7 linked regions of the Homo sapiens genome follow. The protein of the gene in region 3 interacts with the protein of the main gene of each other region in a biochemical or structural test. Each region holds a gene or a part of one and is shown on either strand. Other genes may lie near its edges. The genes, in order: RNF8, FHL3, CHEK2, USP39, PPP2CA, RB1 and MED1.

The links.
Region 1: of the proteins of CHEK2 (region 3) and RNF8, one has a biochemical effect on the other in vitro, tested with the Homo sapiens proteins (one study listed by BioGRID).
Region 2: the proteins of CHEK2 (region 3) and FHL3 interact in a test that uses a peptide from one of them, tested with the Homo sapiens proteins (one study listed by BioGRID).
Region 4: the proteins of CHEK2 (region 3) and USP39 form a complex in vitro, tested with the Homo sapiens proteins (one study listed by BioGRID).
Region 5: of the proteins of CHEK2 (region 3) and PPP2CA, one has a biochemical effect on the other in vitro, tested with the Homo sapiens proteins (2 studies listed by BioGRID).
Region 6: the proteins of CHEK2 (region 3) and RB1 form a complex in vitro, tested with the Homo sapiens proteins (one study listed by BioGRID and IntAct).
Region 7: the proteins of CHEK2 (region 3) and MED1 form a complex in vitro, tested with the Homo sapiens proteins (one study listed by BioGRID).

What each region holds. Positions count from the first base shown.
Region 1 is NC_000006.12:37,370,983-37,374,482, forward strand, and holds part of RNF8 (E3 ubiquitin-protein ligase RNF8), read left to right. Parts: intron 1-529; coding exon 530-592; intron 593-3,500. UniProt on the Homo sapiens protein: E3 ubiquitin-protein ligase that plays a key role in DNA damage signaling via 2 distinct roles: by mediating the 'Lys-63'-linked ubiquitination of histones H2A and H2AX and promoting the recruitment of DNA repair proteins at double-strand breaks (DSBs) sites, and by catalyzing 'Lys-48'-linked ubiquitination to remove target proteins from DNA damage sites.
Region 2 is NC_000001.11:37,996,270-37,999,392, forward strand, and holds the end of FHL3 (four and a half LIM domains protein 3), read right to left. Parts: coding exon 2,988-3,123; intron 2,880-2,987; coding exon 2,705-2,879; intron 1,864-2,704; coding exon 1,694-1,863; intron 1,602-1,693; coding exon 1,415-1,601; intron 1,291-1,414; coding exon 1,136-1,290; 3' UTR 501-1,135; downstream 1-500. UniProt on the Homo sapiens protein: Recruited by SOX15 to FOXK1 promoters where it acts as a transcriptional coactivator of FOXK1.
Region 3 is NC_000022.11:28,689,821-28,693,320, forward strand, and holds part of CHEK2 (serine/threonine-protein kinase Chk2), read right to left. Parts: intron 1-3,500. UniProt on the Homo sapiens protein: Serine/threonine-protein kinase which is required for checkpoint-mediated cell cycle arrest, activation of DNA repair and apoptosis in response to the presence of DNA double-strand breaks.
Region 4 is NC_000002.12:85,622,686-85,626,185, reverse strand, and holds part of USP39 (ubiquitin carboxyl-terminal hydrolase 39), read right to left. Parts: intron 2,561-3,500; coding exon of another isoform or gene 2,541-2,560; coding exon 2,404-2,540; intron 648-2,403; coding exon 495-647; intron 1-494.
Region 5 is NC_000005.10:134,205,574-134,209,073, forward strand, and holds part of PPP2CA (serine/threonine-protein phosphatase 2A catalytic subunit alpha isoform), read right to left. Parts: intron 559-3,500; coding exon 349-558; intron 1-348. UniProt on the Homo sapiens protein: Catalytic subunit of protein phosphatase 2A (PP2A), a serine/threonine phosphatase involved in the regulation of a wide variety of enzymes, signal transduction pathways, and cellular events.
Region 6 is NC_000013.11:48,376,751-48,380,250, reverse strand, and holds part of RB1 (retinoblastoma-associated protein), read right to left. Parts: intron 3,334-3,500; coding exon 3,217-3,333; intron 658-3,216; coding exon 601-657; intron 417-600; exon of another isoform or gene 377-416; intron 199-376; coding exon 167-198; intron 87-166; coding exon 10-86; intron 1-9. UniProt on the Homo sapiens protein: Tumor suppressor that is a key regulator of the G1/S transition of the cell cycle. The hypophosphorylated form binds transcription regulators of the E2F family, preventing transcription of E2F-responsive genes.
Region 7 is NC_000017.11:39,444,764-39,448,263, forward strand, and holds part of MED1 (mediator of RNA polymerase II transcription subunit 1), read right to left. Parts: intron 3,142-3,500; coding exon 3,035-3,141; intron 1-3,034. UniProt on the Homo sapiens protein: Component of the Mediator complex, a coactivator involved in the regulated transcription of nearly all RNA polymerase II-dependent genes.

The sequences.
Region 1 (3,500 bases), on a different chromosome or scaffold from region 3:
AGCTTCCACATTGGAGGGGGCTGATGAGGAAATACAGCATAAGCTCAGGCAAGGAGAGAGGAGGAGCAGAGGAGCAGTGTATAAACTGAAGTGGTAAAGACTCAGAATGAGAGACAAGATGGCCAGAGTAGAGGGAAAAGAAGCATGCTAGATGTTGTGAGTGCCAGCACTGGGAATTACATCTGAGTTTAGGTATTTGGGGGCTCAGAAGTTCTCAGTTTACATCCTTTTGGGAATCATGGCGTTAGTCCATGAAGGAGGCTTGGACTGTTAGGCCATAGTATTTCCAGAACAACCCAATTGGTGGCTTAAAGCCGACAGTCCTGAAGTGTGCAGTATTTGAGCAGATAACTGCTCAAATTCTTTACTGCCAACAGCTTGAAGTAAAACAGGAGATTTTCCACCTGCTCCCTCACCCCTGTTGTTTCCAGATGCTCATACTAGCTGGTCTGCTCTGCTTGTTGCTGGATTGTGTTCCTTTTTTTCTTTTCCCTGCAGAGAAACCTTCCATTTTGTTTTGGCTTTGCAGGGTTTGGAGATAGCCCAAGGAGAAAAGGACCTGAAGCAACAGCTGGCCCAGGCTCTGCAGGAGGTAACTTTGCCATAGTACTAAGATTATAGTGGGCTGTGGAGTGGGGAGCAAACAGGCATCACATGACCACTGGCTGCCTCTGCTGCTTAGCCCATACCTCTGTGGCATCCCCAGTCTGTAAACAGAGCAGGTGGCAGCTGCTCACACCATCAGATCAGAGATTTGGAGCCTTACAAACATGCCAGACCTCAGCATGAAAACTTACATCTTTGTCTGAGCAGAAGTTGCTCTGGTGAAGATGGAATGGAGCTTTAGCAGTTAAGAGGCTCTCTGGGGAAGTGGCTCCACTTCTAGAAAGGTGAGGGCAGCAGAGGGAAAATGTGAGGTATGACTTGGCCACCAGGGCCCGTGAAGGCCTCTGTTACCGCAATGTTCCTGAGCTGTAGCCAACCAGAAACAATTGGGGAATGTTCCAGTTAAGCATTTTAGGCCAGGTTGAGAATGTGCAGTTTAACAATCAACAACACATATCAATTTATTGAAAAGGTAAAGCTCAACAGGACTAAAATTCTCCTAAAAGATTGCCTGTAATTTATTTAATTTAACCTGACTACTCTCATTTGATTATTTTTTTGTGTGCTCTTTTGCATCTTTAAAACCTACTATGTCTTCTACCTTTTATGTATTATGATTAGTAGTTTAGTGCCATTTAGTCAGGATGGTTCAAATCTCATTGGAAAGAGTGAGCAAATCACATAGGAATTTGTTCAGGGGAATTTATCCTTTTATCGTAAACCTACTTCCCAACCTTAACAGTGCTAACAGTCATACAGTATTGTAAGCATGACAGGGTGCCTGCCTTGATCTCCTTGAGGGTTGCACAAACAGCTTTGGAAAGAATTAGATGAAAATTAATTCAATCTTTTTAGAATTTTATTTTTTGAGCTTGTTTATTTTCTAGGGTGGGAGAGTAGGCATGTTTCCCATTTGGAACATTATTAAGTTAATATTCAGACATTGTTTTGAAATTGAAAAAGAATGTGGTTCTGCTAGTTGGAAATCCCTGAGGGATCACTGAGTACCCTGCACCCTCTCCTGAGACAGGAAAACACTCTATCATTTTGCATGGGATACTTGGCCATGCATTTATTAGCTTAAAATGTGATACTTTTAGACCGGGCACGGTGGCTCACGCCTGTAATCCCGGCACTTTGGGAGGCCCAGGCAGGCGGATCACCAGAGGTAGGGAGTTCAAGACCAGCCTGACCAACATGGAGAAACCCTGTCTCTACTAAAAATACAAAATTAGCCGGGCGTGGTGGCGCATGCCTGTAATCCCAGCTATTCAGGAGGCTGAGGCAGGAGAATCGCTTGAACCCGGGATGTGGAGGTTGTAGTGAGCTGAGATCGTGCCATTGCTCTCCAGCCTGGGCAACAAGACTCCGTCTCAAAAAAAAGTGATACTTTTAGGTCATGGTTCTATACCATCATGCCTGGGGGACATGCCACTCTCATGCAGTGGTGGTTTTTTGTTCCACCATGCTGATACTTTTGAAAGCTGTTCTTTACCAGACCATTATAAAAACTGTTTTTATAATGGTCTTTTATAACTGATTTCCTGTTTAAATCACATAATACCTTCCTCTCCAATCTCCAAGAAACTACCACATCTTTTTAAACCGAGTGATTCATAAGTTCTCAGGGAATTTGACTATAGTTAGAAATGGGTCCAGACCTTCACTGCCCTAAGCAGTCTGCCAGTCTTTGCTTTGAGTGGAAAAGAAAATAAAAAGATGTGTTTATATACAGCTCAAAAAACTTCTCTGAATGCTTTTCATACCTGTTATTTTCTTATGAACACTGAGGGAGGAGGGGGCACCTATTTTCCCATTTCCTTTTATTTTTATTTTGAGACAGTGTCTCGTTCTGTCACCCAGGCTGGAGTGCAGTGGTGCAATCTCAGCTCACTGCAGCCTCCGCCTCCTGGGCTCAAGTGATCCTCCCACTTCAGCCTCCTGAGTAGCTGGAACCATAGGCGCGCGCCACAATGCCCGACAATTTTTTTGTATTTTTGGTAGAGATGAGGTTTCACCATGTTGCCGAGGCTGGTCTCAAACTCCTGAGCTCAAGCCATCCACCCGGCTCAGCCTCCCAAAGTGCTGGGATTACAGGTATTATGAGCTACCACGCCCGGCCATATTTTCCCATTTTATAGATGAGAAAGTTAAAATACACATATCTAATTAGTGTGTCAAGTTGAAGACCCAGGCCTTTTGACATAACTGCTTTTTTTTGTCAGGAGATCACACATTTTAAAATTTGGTTCTTGAATAATATCTTTTCAAAAATACTTACCTTTACTCCACCTTCTTTTAAAAAGAATTTGAGGTGAGATTCTAAAGTATAAGCTATACTTAAGCATGAGAGAACTCATAAATTATGTTTCATATATGTGGAACCTCTTGACATTCAGCATAGGCATTTAGTCACAATGAATGAGCTGTTAGCTCCTGGGTGTGCCTTCTTCCAGAAAACACTGGCAGGGTTCAGGCAGCATTGTCTGAGCATGTAATATGTGATTTGTAGAACAAATAGGTTAAAAATCTTTTTTATTTCAATAAAAATGACTATCTAATTCTGCTGATTCCCATTTCCTCCTGATTATTTCATAAAAGCTGCTTCCAGTTCTGAATAGCTTTTAATTACTTACTAGTTCTTAAATACTGTTCCCAGAATCACTTGGGTGGCTTTAAAAAAAAAGAAAAAAAGAAAAGCACATTTCTGGGCTCCAAGCCAAACCTATAGAAGCAGACTCTGGGACACAGTGAAAGTTCTTCAGTTGACTTGGATGGCCACCAATGTTGGGTTAGTTTTAGAGGCCCTAGTCCATTTGGTGGCCGCCTTCCCTAACTGCCCTCTCCCCTGAAAAAAGCAGCAGGTAGGTAAGATAGCCCAATGGAATAAAGGT
Region 2 (3,123 bases), on a different chromosome or scaffold from region 3:
TGCCTTTTTTGGCAAAAAACGTGCGGCCGCGAGAGGATCCTGGGCCGCCCTTGCTAATCCTTGGGAAGAGGGGGAAGGGGGCTGAGAGGGTCTGGGCCCAGACTGGGGATCGGAACCAGGTCCTTGCTCTGCGGGCTTTGGGCAGGGCTGTTGGCGGAGGAGACTATTCGTACCAGCCAATTAAGGAACCCCACCGCCACCCTGGCTTTCATCTGGAACCTCCCCCAAACCCCTCCCTTCCCTACATGAGGGAAAAAGCCCTCTGCCAGCAGGGAGGCAGGACGAGCTCCAGAGGGAGGGTAGCTGTGGCGGGGATCCCCTTCATGGGGAGAGACTTCCCACCCCATGGCCCGGCCCCCCTCCACCCCACCCTGCAAGGATGAGGTCTAGCAGAGATTCTGAGCCTCCCAGTCTGCAAAAACCCTTCCTTCCCCATTATACCCTGAACACACACACACACACACACACACACACACACACACACACACGGAGGCCCCTGCTTCCTCACACCGCTTTATTGCAGAATCTGGAAGGGGGATGAGCCAATCTCACCCCTCTGCCCATCTATGGGCAAAATGGAGCTGAAATAAAATGAGAAGACACTCGGTGGCGACCTGCTGGGCAGCACCCTGTACCCTAGGGCCCCTTATCAGTGGGCTCCTGATCTGCTGCCCCCACAGCCTCAACCGCGGGGATGGGGTGGGGCAGGTCAAGCCTGAGAACAGTCCACTTTCAAGGACTTCCCAGGCACCCATAGGAGACCTGAAACCTATAAAGAGAAGTCTAGATTTAAGGGGGCCTAAGTCCCAGAGTCCAGGTTTGGAGGGCTCGGGTCTAGAGCCCTGATTTGGGGAGAGGACTCAGTCTGGGAACCCAGACTGCAGGGGAGAGGGTGAATTCTGGAGTCCAGGTGTGGGGAGGGGGCTTGACTCATGGAGGCTCTGTAAGAGCCCAGGTTTGGGGCCCTGGGTCAGGGAGTACCAGTTTGGGGATGCTGGAGTGGGGAGACAATCCTGGAGCCCAGAAGGAGACCCATTTTTTTTGGCGGGGGGAGCTGAGTCCCAGAGGTGGTTTAGAAAAGGAGCCACAGTCCTGGGCCCGTGGTATGGGAAAGCCTGGGTCCAGGAGCCCTGGCTTAGGGCCCTGCCTGGCTACAGCCCTGGCAGAGCACTTGGTCTCCATCCGGTACGAAGCCCTGGCCCACCAGGGAGGTAGAGCAGCGGGCGCAGGAGAAGCAGTTGTGGTGCCAGTGTCGGTCTTCAAAGGACACATACTTGCCTCCACCGAGTCCTGGAGGGAGGCTGGAAGTTAGCTATGCAGATGTGGGGATGGTCCGGCCCTCAACCTCACCCAATACCACATCCCACTCCCTTGCCTGCACCCTACCCACTCCGTTCTTTGACCCTTGTCCCACCTACGATGGGGCGCTTGCAGCTGCTGCACTTAGGTGCAAAGAGTTCTCCAAAACAGGCCACACAGTAGGGATCTTCATCCCGGGAGGTGAACTGCTGCCCTGCCAGGGGCGTCTGGCATCCGGTACAGACCAGACATTCTCGATGCCACGGCTGATCACGGTATGTCACTCCACCCTGTGTCAGCGTCTGTGGGGGCAGCATCCATTAGTAGGTATGAGTGGGGATTCCCACCCCACAACAGGCCTCACTCACCCCCACCTGGCTGGCCCAGCCCCCACCTTGCTGCAGCGGGCGCAGCGAGGAGCAAACTTGTTCTCATAGCAGGGCACGCAGTAGTGAGCACCCTTGTCGGGCACAAAAGAACGGGAGCCCAGTGGCTGTTCACAGCCACTGCACAGGAAGCAGTGCTCATGCCATGTCTGGCCTCCATATTCCAGCTTCCGGGACCCTGTGGGGAACAGGGGTCCCATTTAGAGGTTGTGTCCCATGCTCCTGAGGGCCACCCTCTGTAACTTCCCCAGGAGTCTCCACTCCTCTCTCAGCGTGAGCAGGGTGGTGTCCGTGCACATGCAGCAAGAACCCCCCCGCCCTATGTATATTACACATGCTAACCTCTCCCCAGACACCGGACATGATGACCCAGCTAGACACGAGGGTTTTGGCCTATGTTAAGCCCCCATATGTCCCAGAGATGACAATTTCAGCACACATCAAGCCTCCATGTAACAGTCATGAAGTCTCACTAAGAGCTAAGCCCTCATATAACAGATGTGATGATTTTAGCACTCACATGGGACCCCACATGTACCAGGCAAGTAAGTATCTGCCCACACAAAGTTCTAATGCCCTGGGCATGACAGGTTCGGTACATGCTAAGCCCTCGCATCTCCTCGGCACACCATTCTCCATAGGTGCTGAGTCCCAGCATTTCTATTAGGCATGCAGGTCCCCACACATGTTAAGCCCTCTGTTTATCTGCTTCTGCATACATTAAGACCCAATGCAACAAGCATGACAGTCTCAGCACACCTCTAGTTCCTACCTGTACTAAACATGCAGATATTCACACATGCTAAGCCCCCAAGTATGTATCACATGTGTCAATCTGCCTGTACATAGTAGCCCCCAGGAGTATACCAGGCAAACAGATCCCGTATATACTAAATTTCCAGAAACATGCTGTGTATGCAGGTCTTTACACAGACCAAGTCTCCATGTATCAGACAGACACATGCAAAGACCCTACGCAGATGCCAGTTCTCACACAAGATGAGCCCCTGAACACATACCAGGCATGACAGTCTCCCCACAAGCGGAGCACTGCGAGGAAAACGCACTGCAGTAGCAGTCATTGCAGAGCAGCTCACTGTCCTGGCAGGTGAAGGGTTCATCGGCTAGTGAGCGCTGGCAGCGGCAGCAGCGGAAGCAGCCCTCGTGGAAATGGCGGTCTTCATAGAACAGCTCCTGTGGGGAACACAGCAGGGGCACTGGCACCCAGGCCTCATGGACCCATCCTTTGCCCCCTTCCACTGGTCACCACCCACCTCCTGCCTGGCCTGGCCCTCTCCTTACCCTCGAGTCATGCCCGATAAGCTGCTGGCACTCAGCACAGGTGTTGGCAAAGGTATTGTCATAGCAGGGCACACAGTAGGGGCCGCTGTCTGTCTGGATGTACTTGCGTCCATACAGGGACTCGTTGCATTTTGCA
Region 3 (3,500 bases):
CAGGAGATGAGGAGGGCACAGACAGTGTGTATGCGAGTAGCTCCCACCTCTCTGGATGCTCACTTCTGCAGGGTTCGAGGATTTGCATTAGGAAACCCTGAGAGGTGGTCTGGTGCAGCTCTCCCCATCTTCAGCAAGGTGAAAGGAACATCCATAACTAGGAATGTGGCCTTTGAGTGCTGGCCAGAAGCCCAGCTCAGCCACTCACAGGTGGCATGTGCAGAATACAGACCCAGAGTTATCTGATTCCAGTGCCTCATGTACTTTCCCACCCAACTCCAGCCCCTCCTCCCACTGAGCCAAGCATACCACAGTGGGGAAAGGGAGAGGATACAGTAAAGTCCTCCACCATTTGGCAATTTGATGGATATGGAAATTTTACAACACTAGGTTGGGCATGGTGGCTCATGCCTATAATCCCAGCACTTTGGGAGGCCAAGGTGGGAGAATTGCTTGAGGCCAGGAATTTGAGACCAGCCTGGGCAACATAGTGGGACTTCGTCACTACAAAAAAAATTAAAAATTAGGCCAGGCACGGAGGCTCACGCCTGTAATCCCAGCACTTTGGGAGGCCAAGGCAGGCGAATCGCCTGAGGTCGGAAGTTTGAGATCAGCCTGGCTAACATGGTGAAACCCCTTCTCTACTAAAAATACAAAATAAGCAGGGCATGGTAGTGCACGCCTGTAATCCCAGCTACTCAGGAGGCTGAGGCAGGAGAATCGCTTGAACTCAAGAGGCGGAGGTTGCAGTAAGCCAGGATCACACCACTGCACTCCAGCCTGGGCAAAAGAGTACAACACTGTCTCCAAAAAAAAAAAAAAAAAAATTTAAATTAGCCAGACATGGTGGCATGCACCTGTAGTCTCAGCTACTTGGGAGGCTGGGGCAGGAGGATCACTTGAGCCTGAAAGTCATGGTGCAGTGATCATGCCACTGCACTCCAGCCTAGGTGAGAGAGCAAGACCCTGAGGAAGGAAGAAAGGAAAGAAGCAAGGAAGGAAAAAGGGGAGGGGGGACGAAAGAAGGGAGGGGAAAGGAATGGAGGAGAGGGGAGGGGGAAGGAAGGAGGAAGAAAGAAAGAAGGAAAGAAGGACCAGGCACAGTGGCTCACGCCTGTAATCCCAGCACTTTGGGAGGCCAAGGCAGGGCAGATCACTTGAGGTCACTCTGTTTTGAGTTTCTCAGTGTAGCTCCCCATTGCCATTTGACAGCAGCAAGCTCATCTGGATTCTACTCCGCACCCTCTCACGGCCTTACTTAGGATCTCAATTATCTTGCAGTGTCACTCTCAAAAGTCCATCTCTTGGCAGCCCTTCAGTGAAGCCAAACAGAGTGGTCACAAGCCTAATCAGGCCTGTATTTAAAACAAGTAATCAGGTCAGGCACAGTGGCTCATGCCTGGAATCCCAGCACTTTGGGAGGCCAAGGTGGGTAGATAACCTGAGGTCAGGAGTTCGAGACCAGTCTGACCAACATGGTGAAACCCCATCTCTACTAAAAATACAAAAATGAGCTGGGATGGTGGCAGGCACCTGTAATCCCAGCCACTTGGGAGGCTGATGCAGGAGAATCACTTGAACCCAGAGGTAGAGGTTGCAGTGAGCTGAGATCACACCATTGCACTCCAGCCTGGTAGACAAAAGCAAGACTCCATCTCAAAAAAGGAAATAAATAAATAAACATTGATTTTCTTCATGATGTCTACAATTATTCCAAAATATTAAATTAGCCAGGAACAGTGGCTCGTGCCTATTATCCAAGCACTTTGTGAGGCTGAGGCGGGAGGATCCCTTAAGGCCAGGAGATCAAGGCTGCAGTGAGCTATAATTGCACCAGTGCACTCCAGTTTAGGCAACAGAAGAAGACCTTGTCTCCAACAGTAAATAAAATAAAAATTAAATTGTAATATCCCTTGAAAGTAAACAGAAGAAATCCTCTATTTCAGGCAGTAAATATGAGGCAGAGAGTAGATGTAAGGGATGCTCCCAAAACTGGGCACTCTGTTAATGACAAAACAGAGACCAGAATCCACATTCCCAACACTCAGTTCAGCGACAGACCCACAAAACCATTTGGTTTTTTCAAAAACACTGAATTTTCCCAAAATAAAACCCAAACTATCACTAACAGATGTTTTAGATGGTCAGTCTTCATCCTTGTCTTCATTCAATGCTCATTCCTCCTTTCACTGCAAAAACAAAAGGTGGCTAAAAGAGTATTCCAGGGAGATCCTGCAACAGAGTTGAACTTCACCTTCTCCTTGGTTGTTAATAAGTTTTCTTTGACACAAAAAAGTACAAGAAAGATAGGCTATGCTTGCTCATAAATTTCAGGCAGATGCAAACCCTGTTCCCAGGCTCAACTGGCCAGCTCTATTTTTTGTTAGAGATGAACACAGCTCCTGTACCTCTACATTTAGACCCAAGAGTTTCCCTATTAGGACACATGAAAAGAGCCAAAAGACATGTTTCTCTTTTTCATCAAAATTAAAATCCCCACATGCAAAGGCACCCTTTGTTTCCAAACCCCTTTCCTCCAGGGTCCCACTGTTTCAAATCTGTGTGGTCTATTAAATGCTAAATCATCTGACAGATTTCTTCTGGGGAGACTGTAGTTTCCAGGGCAACATCCAAACACATATATGTCTTTTTTTGTTTGTTTGTTTGTTTGTTTTAAGTTTTTGTTGTTCTCAACCTGAGCTGGCCTGAGCAAAACTGTTAGGTGTAGAGGATTGGAACAGAGAACAGGGACAGTCTTCCCAGAGTCCCAGAAGTACGGGTCGGAGGCTGGACTGCCCAAGGAGTTCCTGGACCAGTAATCCCCAGAGAAACAGCATTTAGCTCAAGTAACAGCCTCTAGCTCAAGCTACCAGTTCTGTCCCCCATCTCCACAGAAAACGGATTGATACAGTTTGGCTTTGTGTCCCTACCCAAATCTCATCTCAAATTGTAATCCCCAGGTGTTGAGAAAGGGACCTGTTGAGAGGTGATTGGCTCATGGGGGCAGTTTCCCCCAGGCTATTCTCGTGATAGTGAGTGAGTTCTCACCAGATCTGACAGTTTCATAAGAGGATCTTCGCCCTTCACTTCCTTCACAAGCTCTCTCACCTGCTGCCATTAAGACATGCCTTCTTCCCCTTCCACCATGATTATAAGTTTCCTGAGGCCTCCCCAGCCATGTGCAGCTGTGAGTCAGTTAAACCTCTTTTCTTTGTAAATTACCCAGTCTTGGGCAGTTCTTTATAGCAGTGTGAGAACAGACTAATACACAAACCAAAAAAAAATTCATAGAAAGGGGCATGTCTGTGCTGAATGGAACTGCTCATTACAGAAGACCAGACATCTATCAGAAAAACCTGCCCAATGCCGTGGCTAATTCTAAAACTAAAGATTAACCCAGCAAAGCCACAACATACTTCCAACTCTTGGCAGTTCCAGATGAGGTCAGCATTTAAAAATGGCAGCCCCAACCCCTAGCAGGAGCACAGCGGTAATACAGA
Region 4 (3,500 bases), on a different chromosome or scaffold from region 3:
GTTTCTCCATGTTGGCCAAGCTAGTCTCGAACTCCTGACCTCAGGTGATCCTCCCGCCTTGGCCTCCCAAAGTGCTGGGATTACAGGTATGAGCCACTGCGCCTGGCCGAAGGCAGTAATTTCTTGGCCAGTACACATACTATTTCCTGTCCCTCTCTTTTTTTTTTCTTGAAACAGAGTCTCACTGTTCCCCAGGCTGGAGTGCAGTGGCGCGATCTCGGGTCACTATAACCTCTGCCTCCCGGATTCAAGCGATTCTCCCACCTCAGCCTGCCAAATAGCTGGGACTACAGGCTTCCACCACCATATCTAGCTAATTTTTGTATTTTTAGTAGAGACAGGGTTTCTCCATGTTGGCCAGGCTGGCTCAAACTCTTGACCTCAGGCAATCCGCCTGCCTTGGCCTCCCAAAGTGCTGGGATTACAGGGGTGAGCCACTGTGCTCAGCCTTCTGGGTGTCCTTCTCTTCCTCAATGTTCCCGTCTTGATCTTACCTGAAGGACAGCGTTGGCATAATCATTGGCCTTTATGTTATTCAGTCCCACAATACCCGGCAGGTAAGTGGTACCATCATATGCCCGGGACAATTTGGCTTGCTTGTCCAAGTTTGCAATTTGCTGCTTTGTGAAAGTGGGCTTCAACACATACTGCAAAGCAAAAGAAAATGCTAAGTTGTTTAAGAGCTGAGTTCACAAGAAATGTCTGTAACAGTAATTTCTACAAAAACAAAAAACACTTGGCCATGAACATCCCACCACACACAGAAAAATAGTCCGAACCAGTAGGTGTAAAGATTGAAGTAACACGGAGTAGATCCTCTCCCATGGCTAATCTACAAGGGGATCTCTGTGTCTATCCCAAAATCACTGAATCCCAGGTCTTTTCGCCGACCTCAGGTCTGGTCAACTCATGAAAACTGACTGCCAGAAACCATACAATACTCAAGTTCCTAAAGGCAGTCTAAGTCTCAGATAGAACCTCCTGGGAGCAGCACATGGACCTAGCTTTGGAGCAGGAGAGTTTCCTCCACTCTGGGTGGGAATGAGGATCTCCATGAGTCCCTGGTACTGGAAGAGCAGGATCAGACTCTTCCCAGGCACAGAGTTACCACAGTCATTATGTCACAGACTGGACAGAGATCATCGCAAACTCACTTTGAAACACTGAATTTAGCCCAGTTTTTCCCTCTATAAATACTGACCATAACTTTTTTTTTTTTTTTTAGATGGAGTTTTGCTCTTGTTGCCTAGACTAGAGTGCCATGGCATGATCTTGGCTCACTGCAACCTCCCCCTCCCAGATTCAAGCAACTCTCCTGCCTCAGCCTCCCAAGTAGCTGGGATTACAGGCATGTGCCATCATGCCCGGCTAATTTTGTATTTCTAGTAGAAACGGGGTCTCATCATGTTGGTCAGGCTGGTCTCAAACTCCTGACCTCAAATGACCCACCTGCCTCGGCCTCCCAAAGTGCTGGGATTACAGGTGTGGGCCTCCCCACCAAGCCTGTCCATAACTATTTTAATCTCAACTATTAATAATAGGCTTATACAACTTTTACAAGTAGAAAAAGCAGTATTTCAAAGACTAAATACCACGTTTTCCTTAAAAATAAACAGAGCATGAACAACTTAGGCAATGCAGTGAGACTCCATCTCTACAAAAAATTTTAAAAATGTATCTGGGCATGATGGTAACGCCTACAGTCCTAGCTACTTGGGAAGCTGAAGTAAAAGTATCACTTGAACCCATGAGGTCGAGGCTGCAGTGAGCTGTGATGGCACCACTGCACTCCAGCCTGAGCGACAAAGTGAGACCCTGTCTCAAAAAAAAAACCAAAAACAAGAACAGAGCACATGGCACCATGAATACACCCCACGTGCTGAAAAGGAAAATAATAATCAAAAGCCCAACACTAATCAAACCCAAGAGGACTTTCCATGCTCAGTACAATGAGTGTCTCTTGGCACAGGTCACAAACTAGAGCCCACAGATAAGATATCTGTGGCTGGATGCTCTGGCCACGGCGTATGTTAAAAGCAGCCAGGAGCCGGTGTGCAGCTTGGTAAATACTGTCCTACACCAGGACCAATTCATATCCCTACTTCACAGTGTAGAAGAATAATTTCACAAAAACACTTTAAACCCCATCAGAATACACCCATATTTCTTCAGTCCTAGCCCTCAATGTTACAAGTAGAAATGACAGTTAAGTTACAGACTACAGGCTGCAATTATGAATTCTGACCTTACTCAGTTTCCCCAGTTCTTCCCAAAAGAGAAAGCAGCCTCTCGATGCCTAAAGGGACTGAGATTCTTCCCTGTCCTCAGGTGGGGCAGTCCCCTGGGAGCCCTGGGATGGCTCATTAAAGAATGGACCCCAAACCAACCCTCTTAGACACACACCGTGATATCCTCCAATGAGGAATCGATGATCTCATAGTTGTCTGGAAGGCAGTAAAACTTGAGGGTGTGGAGGTTGAGGAAAACATGGTGGCTAAACTGGACACTGTGAATGTAGGCGTGAGACTTCAAACCCCGGCCTGTAGGGAAGGGTGAAAAGCTGTAATAGAAGGGCAGATACTAGAACACACAGATCAGGTTTGCTTTTCCTTTCATTATTTTCTACCGGAACATGTTAATATCCGCAAAAAACAAATATTATGCCATTCATAAAATGAATCCTCCACATGAAGTTCTCTCATAAAAAAATTAGCAAGAAAGACTAGCACATTAGTTACTTCATTCTCTAAATGGCCTAAGACATTGATTAGGGAAACAAATTTCACTATTTTTTAATATATATGTAAAATATATATAACCTATATATATATCTATATATAATACATATAACTATATATTCATACATAGTTTCCTATATACATGAAACTAGAAATATCTATGCATATATGTGTGCATAAATACACATAAACATAAATACATACATATCCTATGACAGTCCATCATCACTCAGTCCTGGATTTCCAAATGCCCATATTCAGGACAATGCTTTATCTATGTAACTTTTTTCATGTTGCTACTCCTTTCTAGAATCTCTCTCCCTTAACCATTCAAATTCTATGTCCTGCCAATTCAAGTCCCACCTCAGCTCTTCCATGAACTCAACATAAACACTCCAGCTAACATTGATTTTTGCACATTCAACTCCTATTGCACTTATTTTTACTCCGTGCCACAGTCCAGCAGTAATCTTTATGATCTAACAGAACTCACTGGTTGTTTTACATGTCAACCTTGACTCCTTATAAGCTCCTTACGAGAGCAAAGAATACAGTTTTTATCTCTTTTTTTGAGACAGGGTCTTGCTATGTTAGCCAGGTGGGTCTTGAACTCTTGACTTTAAACAATCCTCCTCCTCGGCCTCCCAAAATGCTAGGATTAGGTGTGTAAACCACTGTGCCCAGCTGTTTTTACCTCATTTGAATCCTCCACTATACTATGTACATGGCATCTGCTTGGTGTGAATGAGTTGAAATGATAAA
Region 5 (3,500 bases), on a different chromosome or scaffold from region 3:
GGCTTCACCATGTTCTCCAGGCTGGTCTCGAACTCCTGACCTCAGGTGATCTGCCTACCTCAGCGTCCCAAAGTGCTGGGATTACAGGCATAAGCCATCACGCCCAGCCTATTTTTTCAAACAATCTGACTGAGGCATTCATTCTCCTCCTTTTGTTTTGATTCTGTACCATCCCCTTACTCAGAACGCAGACGCCTATGATTTTTAAGTCCAAAACCTGAACATATGCATTCCTAAATGTGGAATTTTGTTTTAACATTCAGATAGAGAAAATAACTGGGGGAAAAAAAACTTTCAAGAGGACTGTCTTACCCATTTCAACATGCCCCAACATAAAATTGAAATTACCTTAAGAGCTACAAGCAGTGTAACTGTTTCAACTGAATAATATCCTCTGTCAACATAATCTCCCATAAACAAGTAATTTGTATCTGGTGATTTGCCACCAATTCTAAACAGTTCCATGAGATCATGAAATTGCCCATGCACATCTCCACAGACAGTAACTGGACATCGAACCTCTTGCACGTTGGATTCTTTTGTCAGGATTTCTTTAGCCTACAGATGGGAGACAAAAATAAGGCAATACATTTGGCATTAAACAATATTAACAAAGATTTGTTTACTTACACTTAATGTAGCTTAAGGGGCAGACTCAGTCTAAGATAAAATTGCAGGCATTTATGAACCCATTAAAATAAGTGAGATATGATTATAATCCATTAGCTATCTCACCCTGTTACCTAGGGAAAAAATATGCATTCCTATCATCAATACCAGGAGTTTTTTAAAAACCTATCAAATAGCCATCTAATTAAATACTAATTGTTAGCTGTCACATAAAACCAATGAAAATCGAACAGGACATTCAGGTATCTACTTCCTTACCTTCAGAGTTCTAACTACAATGCAGCACTCAAAGATTCTTTTTTTTTCTTTTTTTGAGACAGGGTCTCATTTTGTCACCCAGGCTGGAGTGCAGTAGTATGATCATAGCTCACTGTAGCCTGGATCTTCTTGGCTCAGGAATCTTCCCACCTCAGTAGTGGGGACCACAGGCACACGCCACCATGGCTGGCTAATTTTCACAAACTTTTTTGTAGAGACGGGGTCTCACGTGATCCTCCACCCTCATCCTCCCAAGGGCTGGGATTACATGCATAAGCCACCTCACCTCAGCCCTGTTTGACTTTTTAAAAACATGTTTTTGGCCAAGCACTGTGGCTCATACCTGTGAGAAAATCATTTGCTCAACCATCTGTACCAGCCCCATGCTAGCAACTGGACATATAGTGGTGAACAAGATGGCTCATTCCCACTACCGTAGAGGGGAGAAGGACCACAAACAAGTAACCAAGCCAAAAGTACACTGTGTTAAGTGTCACAAAGGAAAGGGAGAGGGAAACTGGGAGAGACCACTTTACATAAGATACCAAAACAAATTACCAGAGAATTGTTGCTAATGAGCCATGACAACCACAGATGACAAGGACTGGGTTCAAAGCATTGGTATGCAATCTTAGCTGCACATTAAAAATCCCAATGCCCAGCCAGGCGCGGTGGCTCGCACCTGTAATCCCAGCACTTTGGGAGGCCAAGGCGGGCCGATCACTTGAGGTCAGGAGTTTGAGGCCAGCCTGGCCATCATGGCGAAACCCCATCTCCACTAAAAATAAAAAAAACTAGCTAGGCATGGTGGTGCATGACTGTAGTACCAGCTACTTGGGAGGCTGAGGCAGGAGAATTGCTTAAACTTGGGAGGTGGAGGTTGCCGTGAGCCAAGATCGCATCACTGCACTCCAGCCTGGGTGACAGACCAAGACTCTGTCTCAAAACAAAAACAAAAACACCAATGCCCATTCCTTCCCCTAATAAAGTCAGAATTTTGGAGACTGGAATCAAGCCATCAATAATTTTTAAGCACCCCCACCCCTCCTTTTCCCAGTGTGCAACCAAGTTTAAGAACCACTGCACTTTGGGACGCTAAGGCGGGTGGATGGCTTGACCCCAGGAGTTCCAGACCAGCCTGGAGTACAGTGGCATGATCTCGGCTCACTATAACCTCCACCTCCCAGGTTCAAACGATCCTCCTGCCTCAGTCTCCATGAACAATTGCGACCACAGGTGTGCACCACTATGCCTATTTTGCACTTTTTGTAGAGGTGAGGTTTCACCATGTTGTCCAGGCTGGCCTCAAACTCCTGAGCTTAAATGATTTGCCCACCTCTGCCTCCCAAAGTGCTGAATTACAGGCGTTAGCCACTATACTGGCCTGAGATACCTATTAAGAAATATGTACAACCCATTATTATCAAATCCTACTTCATTCTGAAATTTTTCTCTGCAGGGTAATTCCAACTTCCCATTTACTATCACTAAAAAACACAAATTCACTAGGCTTATTCCATTACCAAGTCTGTCTGGCATTAATACCACATCTAGTGTTTTTTTAACACCTATCATATATTAATGAAAATAACTAAATGAAATAAGTCCTACACTGAGAAGAAACTTGCAAAAGTTATTCAGAAGTTTTAAAAGGGCATGACATAAGCAAACAGATGGTTATATACCATGTAAATCTTGCCATGATGTAATTTTCACATTTAAAGCTATCAGAAGTTAAATGTTAATATACTTCTGTGAATATCTGTTTATCTGCAAAGCTATTCTCTGTATTAATAATAAAAAGTTGACTTTCAGGACTGCCTGAAGTTCCTTACTACAACTGACTCAAATTTTCTATTCAAATCATGAAGGAAAATTAAGTCTAAATGCTATTTGTTGCTTTTATTTCAATTTAGGCAAATCACACCGATAAACAGTGTTATCTATTTTTTAAACTATACAAATTAGTAATACATTCTTGTAAAAAATTTCGGCACAGATAAAATGAAATGTTCCCTTTGAGCACCCTACACAATCCCACCCCCTTTGGGCAAAGTTACCAATAAAATTTTGATGTACAGATGCTCCTCAATTTGTAACACAGCTGCATCCAGATAATCCTATCGTAAATATAATCGAGTCAACAGTGTGTTTTCAGCTTACAATGTTTTCAAGTTATGATATATTTATCTGGATGTAGTCCCATCATAAACTGAGGGGTATATTGAATAGCTATCATTTTCACACCATCATTAAGTCGAAAAATTGGGGAGTGTCTGTATATCCTTTAAAACTTTGTTTACAAAGTTTACACACATACTGTATGTCTACAGAAACAATAGTTTTCCTTTGCATTTTTAAACTAGAAACAATATTGTTCAGCAGCCTGCTTTTCTAACAATATATAATAATACATAACATTTATTGAGACAGCTGGTTATTTTCTCATAGTGGAGGCAGAGTATTCCCCTGACCAATTACAATGGCAGAGGGGTGTGAAACTACAGCAATATATATCCTCGTATTTTCTCCTCTGTATACATATGCAGGCACATTTCCTGAGAGAAGATACTATGAAGTGAACTTAACTAGTGTATCTAGTAGTTTGGTTT
Region 6 (3,500 bases), on a different chromosome or scaffold from region 3:
TTAACTTACTGCTATATGTGGCCATTACAACCTCAAGAGCGCACGCCAATAAAGACATATGAAAAATGTTGTCATTCAGAAGTTTGCTAAAGGAAAAAAAAAAAGATTATAAAATACTTACTTCTATAAAAAGAAAAAAATTTTTTACTAAAAGTAAAAAATTTACCTAAAATTTTGAATGGATAATCGTTCTTCTTCCTGAAACAGATAATTTAAAAAAAAAAAAAGAAGTTGTTTAATTGAAACCTTATTTGTGTCAGCATTGAATTTTTTTTTTTTTTTTTTTTTTTTTTAGATGGTGTCTTGCTCTGTTGCCAGGCTGGGGTGAAATGGCACAATCTTGGCTCACTGCAACCTCCACCTCCCTGGTTCAAGGGATTCTCCTGCCTCAGCCTGCCAAGTAGCTGGGACTACAGGTCTACACCACCACGCCCAGCTAATTTTTGTACTTTTAGTAGAGACAGGGTTTCACCATTTTGGCCAGGATGATCTTGATGCCTTGACCTCCTGATCTGCCCACCTCGGCCTCCCAAAGTGCTGGGATTGCAGGCGTGAGCCACCGCGCCCGGCTGAAATTTTTTTATATTGTTTTTAACTTACTGATTTAAGCATGGATTCCATTACTCGGTAATACAAGCGAACTCCAAGTTTGTATCGCTACAAACAAACAAAAAGAAAAATAAGAGCCTGCTATTTTAGAAAATCACAATTATGAAATTTTTTTTTTTTTTGAGATGGAGTCTCACTGTTTTGCCCAGGCTGGCCTTCACACTCCTGGGCTCAAGAGATCCTCCTGCTTTGGCCTCCCAAGAGGCTGGGATTATAGGCATGTACCACTATACCCAGCTGACAATTACTAAAATTTTTTAAAAAGCCTTTTCTTAAAACATACTTCTCACCCTTCTTACAAATATGGCCGCCAAGACAACACAAAAGCTAGCTTGTCTAAAACTCACAACTTAAGTATTAAGTGGTGATTAACATTCCCAAGTAAATTAACAAGAGGGTAGGTCCAGTACCTGGATTTCCTTAACTCCATTTCAGTTTATATCATTCATACTAAAGATAGGTTATGTGCCCAGTACTATTTTAAGCACTTTATGTACCTTATATAACATTTCTCATGACCTAGGACATGTATTTTCAAGATAGCTGTCCAGGATTAAGAGGACAGTCTTTGTCCATAAATTTAGTAAAACTGACACAGGCAAAAATCAGATCAAACTGACCTTATGAGCAAGAAGTTTTAGCCAAATAACTAGTTCCCATTATTTGAAAGAATAACCAAATTTTAGAAATATAAACACACACCATATTATTTCCTTCCAAACTAAGAGCAAAAATCTCATATATAATCATGCACCGCATAACAACGTTTTTGGTCAATAACTGACTGCATATCTAACAGTAGTCCCATAAGATTATAATGGAGCTGAAAAATTCCTATTGTTTAGTGTAATGTAGTGCAATGCATTACATTACTCACATCTTTGTGATGATGCTGATGTAAATAAACCTATTGCACTGCCAGTCATATAAAAGTATAGTACATACAATTATGTACAGTACATAATACTTAATAATGAACATGTTACTGGTTTATGTATTTATTATACTATACTTTTTATTAGTTTAGAGCATCCTCCTTCTACTTGTAAAAAAAAAAAAAAGTTAAATGTAAAACACCCTCAGGCAGCTCCTTCAGGAGATATTCCAGAAGATAGCATCATCATCATAGGAGTTGACAGCTCTATGCATTTTATTGTCCCTGAAGACTTGGGACAGAATTTGGAGGCAGAAGACAGTGGTATTGTTAATCCTGATCCTGTGTAGGCCTAGGCTAATGTGTGTGTTTGCCTTTGTTTTTGGCAAAAATCTTTATGAAATTGAAAAAATTTTTAAATAGAAAAAAGTGTACAGAATAAGGATTATAAAGAAAGAAAATATTTTTGTACAGCTGTATAAGGTGTTTGTGTTTTAAGCTAAGTGTTATAAGAGTCAAAAGTTTCTTACAAACTGAAGATTTATAAAGTAAAAAAGTTACAGTGAGCTATGGTTAATTTACTACTGAAGAAAGAAAAAATGTTTATGAAATTAGTTTAGCCTAAGTGTAGTATTTATAAAGTCTACGATAGTGTACAGTCATGTCATAGGTAATATTGTAGGCCTTCACATTCACTTGCCACTCGACTCACTGACTCATTCAGAGCAACTTTCAATCCTGTAAGCTCCTTTCATAGTAAGTGCTCTGTGCAAATGTTCCATTTTTTATCTTTTGTACTATATCTTTACCTTTTCTATGTTTGGATATATTTAGATACACAAATGGTAACACATTATGTTACCATTACCTACAGTATTCAGTACACATGCTGTAGAGGCCTGTAGCCTAGGAATGAATAGGCTATATCATACAGCTTAGATGTACAATCGGCTATACCATCTAGGTTTGTACAGACACACTCTACCAGGTTCACACAACAAAATTGCCTAATGATGCATTTGTCAGAACATATCCCTGTTAAGTGGTGCATGGCTGTAGAATCAAAAAGAACCATTAAATATCAATGTTTAAAACACTGATGGCATCAAAATATAACCTCACTACACTGAAATAAATGTGTACAGTGGACTCCAGTTTTCCAATATATTTTTGTATATTATCCTCATTAATGCCACACAACAAAGCAGAGCAAATATAGAACCTGAATCTCAGAGAAGTTAAATGACATGTCCAAGATCAACAATGGTAGAACCAAATATAAACCCAGGGCTGTCACTCCATGGCCCATACTCTTACCTATTATATTAGCTTTAGATTTCCTGAAATAATATCACTCAATAATATCACTGACAAATGGCATGTATAGTCCCATTCACATTAGGATATGCATACATGAACAGTCATACATGTAGAAGTCAAAGCAAAATCAAAAATTTAATATCAAAGATTTCAATTTTTTTCTTAGTTGTATTTTCCAAAATTTCTACAATGGCTATGTGTTCCTTTATTACATAGTTTTTATAATGGGGTGGGAGGTAGTTTTCCATAAAGTTACCCATAAATAGCAGCATACACAGGCAGCAGGGATATAGTATCTGACAGTATTTTATACTACTAGACAAATACTGTTAGAGTATTTATACGAACTGGAAAGATGCTGCTTTTAATATTATTACTCTATAGTACCACGAATTACAATGAATTCAAGTTACCTGTGATCCAATTTCGACACAACCCTGTCCCACAGCTTTAGCAAATTTCTCTTTAAAGATGTATCCTATATCCTTCACTCTTTTCAGTATACTTTCTTTTGGATTCACTGTGCAGTTCTTTAGGAGGTAAAAACAGAAATCAATGTCGAGGATACTGTGTAATCAGAATTAATATTTTCTGCTCCATAATATATGACTTTTTAAATTGTTCATAAAAATGTGGAAACACTTCCATAATAACTAGGTAACCACAACTACTGAACATAAGCAGACAATATCATTTC
Region 7 (3,500 bases), on a different chromosome or scaffold from region 3:
GAGGCTGAGGCAGGAGAATCGCTTGACCCGGGGATGCAGAGGTTGCAGTGAGCCAAGACCACACCATTGCACTCCAACCTTGGTGACAGAGTGAGACTCCATCTCAAACAAAACAAAACAAACAAACAAACAAAAAAAAACTTAGCCTAGTTTTCCTAACCCTATCCAGTGAAGAAGTTTCTCTCTGAAAAACATTCCAGTCCCTAAAAACGTGAACAGTTTTCTGGTATAAGGATAGTTTTCCAGGCTTTTCCATGTTGCAAATAAATCTATCTCACTGCTCTAATTCTCCCTTACAAAACAAAGTAATTTATTAATAATCTGAAATCTCTTGATTCTTGACAGGAGAAGAGGTGCTCTGGTCAATGAATACCAGTATTATGAAAACTGGAAAACTAAATGTTTTGTCATAAATTAATAAATAAGCATACAGTATGTCAGTTGTTGAAAACTCTTTTTTTTTTTTTGAGATGGAGTCTCGCTCCGATGCCCAGACTGGAGTGCAGTAGCATGATCTTGGCTCACTGCAACCTCCACCTCCCGGGTTCAAGCGGTTCTGCTGTCTCAGCCTCCCGAGTAGCTGGGACTACAGGCGCCTGCCACTATGCCCAGCTAATTTTGTCTTTTTAGTAGAGACAGGGTTTTACCTTGTTGGTCAGCCTGGTCTCGAACTCCTGACCTCAGGTGATCGACCCGCCTCAGCCTCCCAAAGTGCTGGGATTACAGATGTGAACCACCACGCCCAGCCATGAAAACTCTATAAAATCTTGATGTACCAATAAAATTAGGTTTCTGAATCTGCAAAACTGAAAAGTAGACAAGCAAAGTCATGGTGACCAAACCAAGAGAGTGGTACCCAAAGAGAGGGCCTTATTAGCCACCTGGAATCCTTCTATCTCACAATGTCTCTCTAATGACAGTATCATTTACAGAACATATTTCAAGCTAGAATTTGGTTGCCTTAAGGAATAAAAATGACAACCTGGGCCAGGCACAGGGGCTCACACCCGTAATCACAGCACTTTGGGAGGCTGAGGCAGGTGGATCACAAGGTCAGGAGTTCAAGACCAGCCTGGCTAACATGGTGAAACCCCATCTCTACTAAAAATACAAAAATTAACTGGGCATGGTGGCGGATGCCTGTAATACCAGCTACTCAGGAGGCTGGGGCAGGAGAATCGCTTGAACCCAGGAGGCGGAGGATGCAGTGAGCCAAGATCCCACCACTGCACTCCAGCCTAGGTGACAGACAGAGATTCCATCTTTAAAAAAAAAAAAAAAAAATGAATCCGCCAGGCACGGTGGCTCACACTGTAATCCTAACACTTTGGGAGGCCAAAGTGGGTGGATCACTTGAGCCCACAAGTTTGAGACCAGCCTGAGCCACAGAGTAAAAACCTATTTCTGGCTAAGCGCAGTGGCTACGCCTGTAATCCCAGCACTTTGAGAGGCCGAGACGGGTGGATCACGAGGTCAGGAGATCGAGACCATCCTGGCTAACACGGTGAAACCCCGTCTCTACTAAAAATACAAAAAGTTAGCCGGGAATAGTGGCAGGGGCCTGTAGTCCCAGCTACTCGGGAGGCTGAGGCAGGAGAACGGCATGAACCCGGGAGGCAAAGCTTGCAGTGAGCCGAGATCGCACCACTGCACTCCAGCCTGGGTGACAAAGCGACACTCCATCTCAAAAAAAAAAAAAAAAAAACGATTTCTACAAAAAATATAAAAAACTAGCTGGGCAGCCGGGCACAGTGGCTCACGCCTGTAATCCCAGCACTTTGGGAGGCAGATCACGAGGTCAGGAGATGGAGACCATCCTGACCAACATGGTGAAACCCCATCTCTACTAAAATACAAAAAATTAGCCAGGCGTGGTGGCGTGTGCCTGTAGTCCCGGCTACTCGGGAGGCTGACGCAGGGGAATCTCTTGAACCTAAGAGGCAGAGGTTGCAGTGAGCCGAGATCGCACCATTGCACTCCAGCCTGGCCACAGAGCAAGACTCCATCTCAAAGAAAAAAAAAAAAAAACTAGCTGGACATGGTTACATGCACCTGTTGTTCCAGATACTAGGAGGCTGAGGTGGGAGAACCACCTGAGCCTGGGAAGTTGAAGCTGCAGTGAGCCATGATCGCGCCACTGCACTTGAGCCTGGATGATAAGACCTGGTCTCAAAAAAAAGAATGAATCAAAAATTCTACTAGTACAGGCTGGGCATACCTAATCTGAAAATCAAAAATCTGAAATGCTCCCAAATCCAAAACCTTTTTAGCATTCCCAATGATGCCACCAAGGATTTCACACCTGACCTCACATAACAGGGTCATAGTCAAAATGCAGTCAAAACGGCTGGACGCGGTGGCTCACGCCTGTAATCCCAGCACTTTGGGAGGCGAAGGCAGGTGGATCACCTGAGGTCTGGAGGTCAAGACCAGCCTGACCAACATGGAGAAACCCCGTCTCTACAAATAATATAAAAATTAGCTGGGCGTGGTGGCGCATGCCTGTAATCCCAGCTATTCGGGAGGCTGAGGCAGAAGAATCACTTGAACCTGGGAGGCAGAGGTTGCAGTGAGCCGAGATCGGGCTATTACAACCCAGCCTGGGCAACAAGAGTGAAACTCCGTCTCAATAAAAAAAAAAAACAAAAAAAAACTTAGTTTCACACACAAAAGTATTAAATATATTATTAAATATGTTGTATAAAATTACCTTCAGGCTATATCTATAAGGTGTTTATGAAACATAAATAAATTATGTGTTTAGACTTGGGTCCCATCCCCAAGATATCTCATTATATATTTGCAAATATTCCAAAATCCAAAACAATCCAAAATCTAAAACACTTCCGGTCCCAAGCATTTCATATAAGGGATATTCAACCTGTAGTATAGATACAATAGACTCCTAAAGTTGAAACCACCATGTATTCAGATGTTTTATGAAGATAGTATGAACACATCTACATGGGGAGCTTAGCGTATTAAGAATAATTATCTAAGCAAAACACTTTACCCACTTCACCACAATCCTTACCATGACTTGACGCACAAGCTTAATGGTTTCACTCCAGGGTCTATTTTGGTTAAATTTTGCATGGAGCCGTTCCAGGAGAGAACTCATCTTACTCAGCTTTTCTGACTCTATGATTTAAATCAGAAAACGTTATCAGTAACTGTTCTATCAAGACCATCCACAGTTTTCCTTGCAAAATAAATTCCCACACTTCATCACAGTAAGAATTCAGTTAAAATATTTTCCAAAATCATTTTACTTCAAAACATCCAAAGAAGACATTTTTAATGGCAAGATGACACACAAGTTATGGGTCTGATGTAAGGAATACCATACCACTGGACTGTTATCTATCCACCTTTTTTTTTTTTTTTTTAAAGACTAAGTTTCACTCTTGATGACCAGGCTGGAGTGTCAAACCCTGTCTCTACCGAAAATACAAAATTAGCCAGATGTGGTGGTGCATGCCTGTAATCCCAGCTACTTG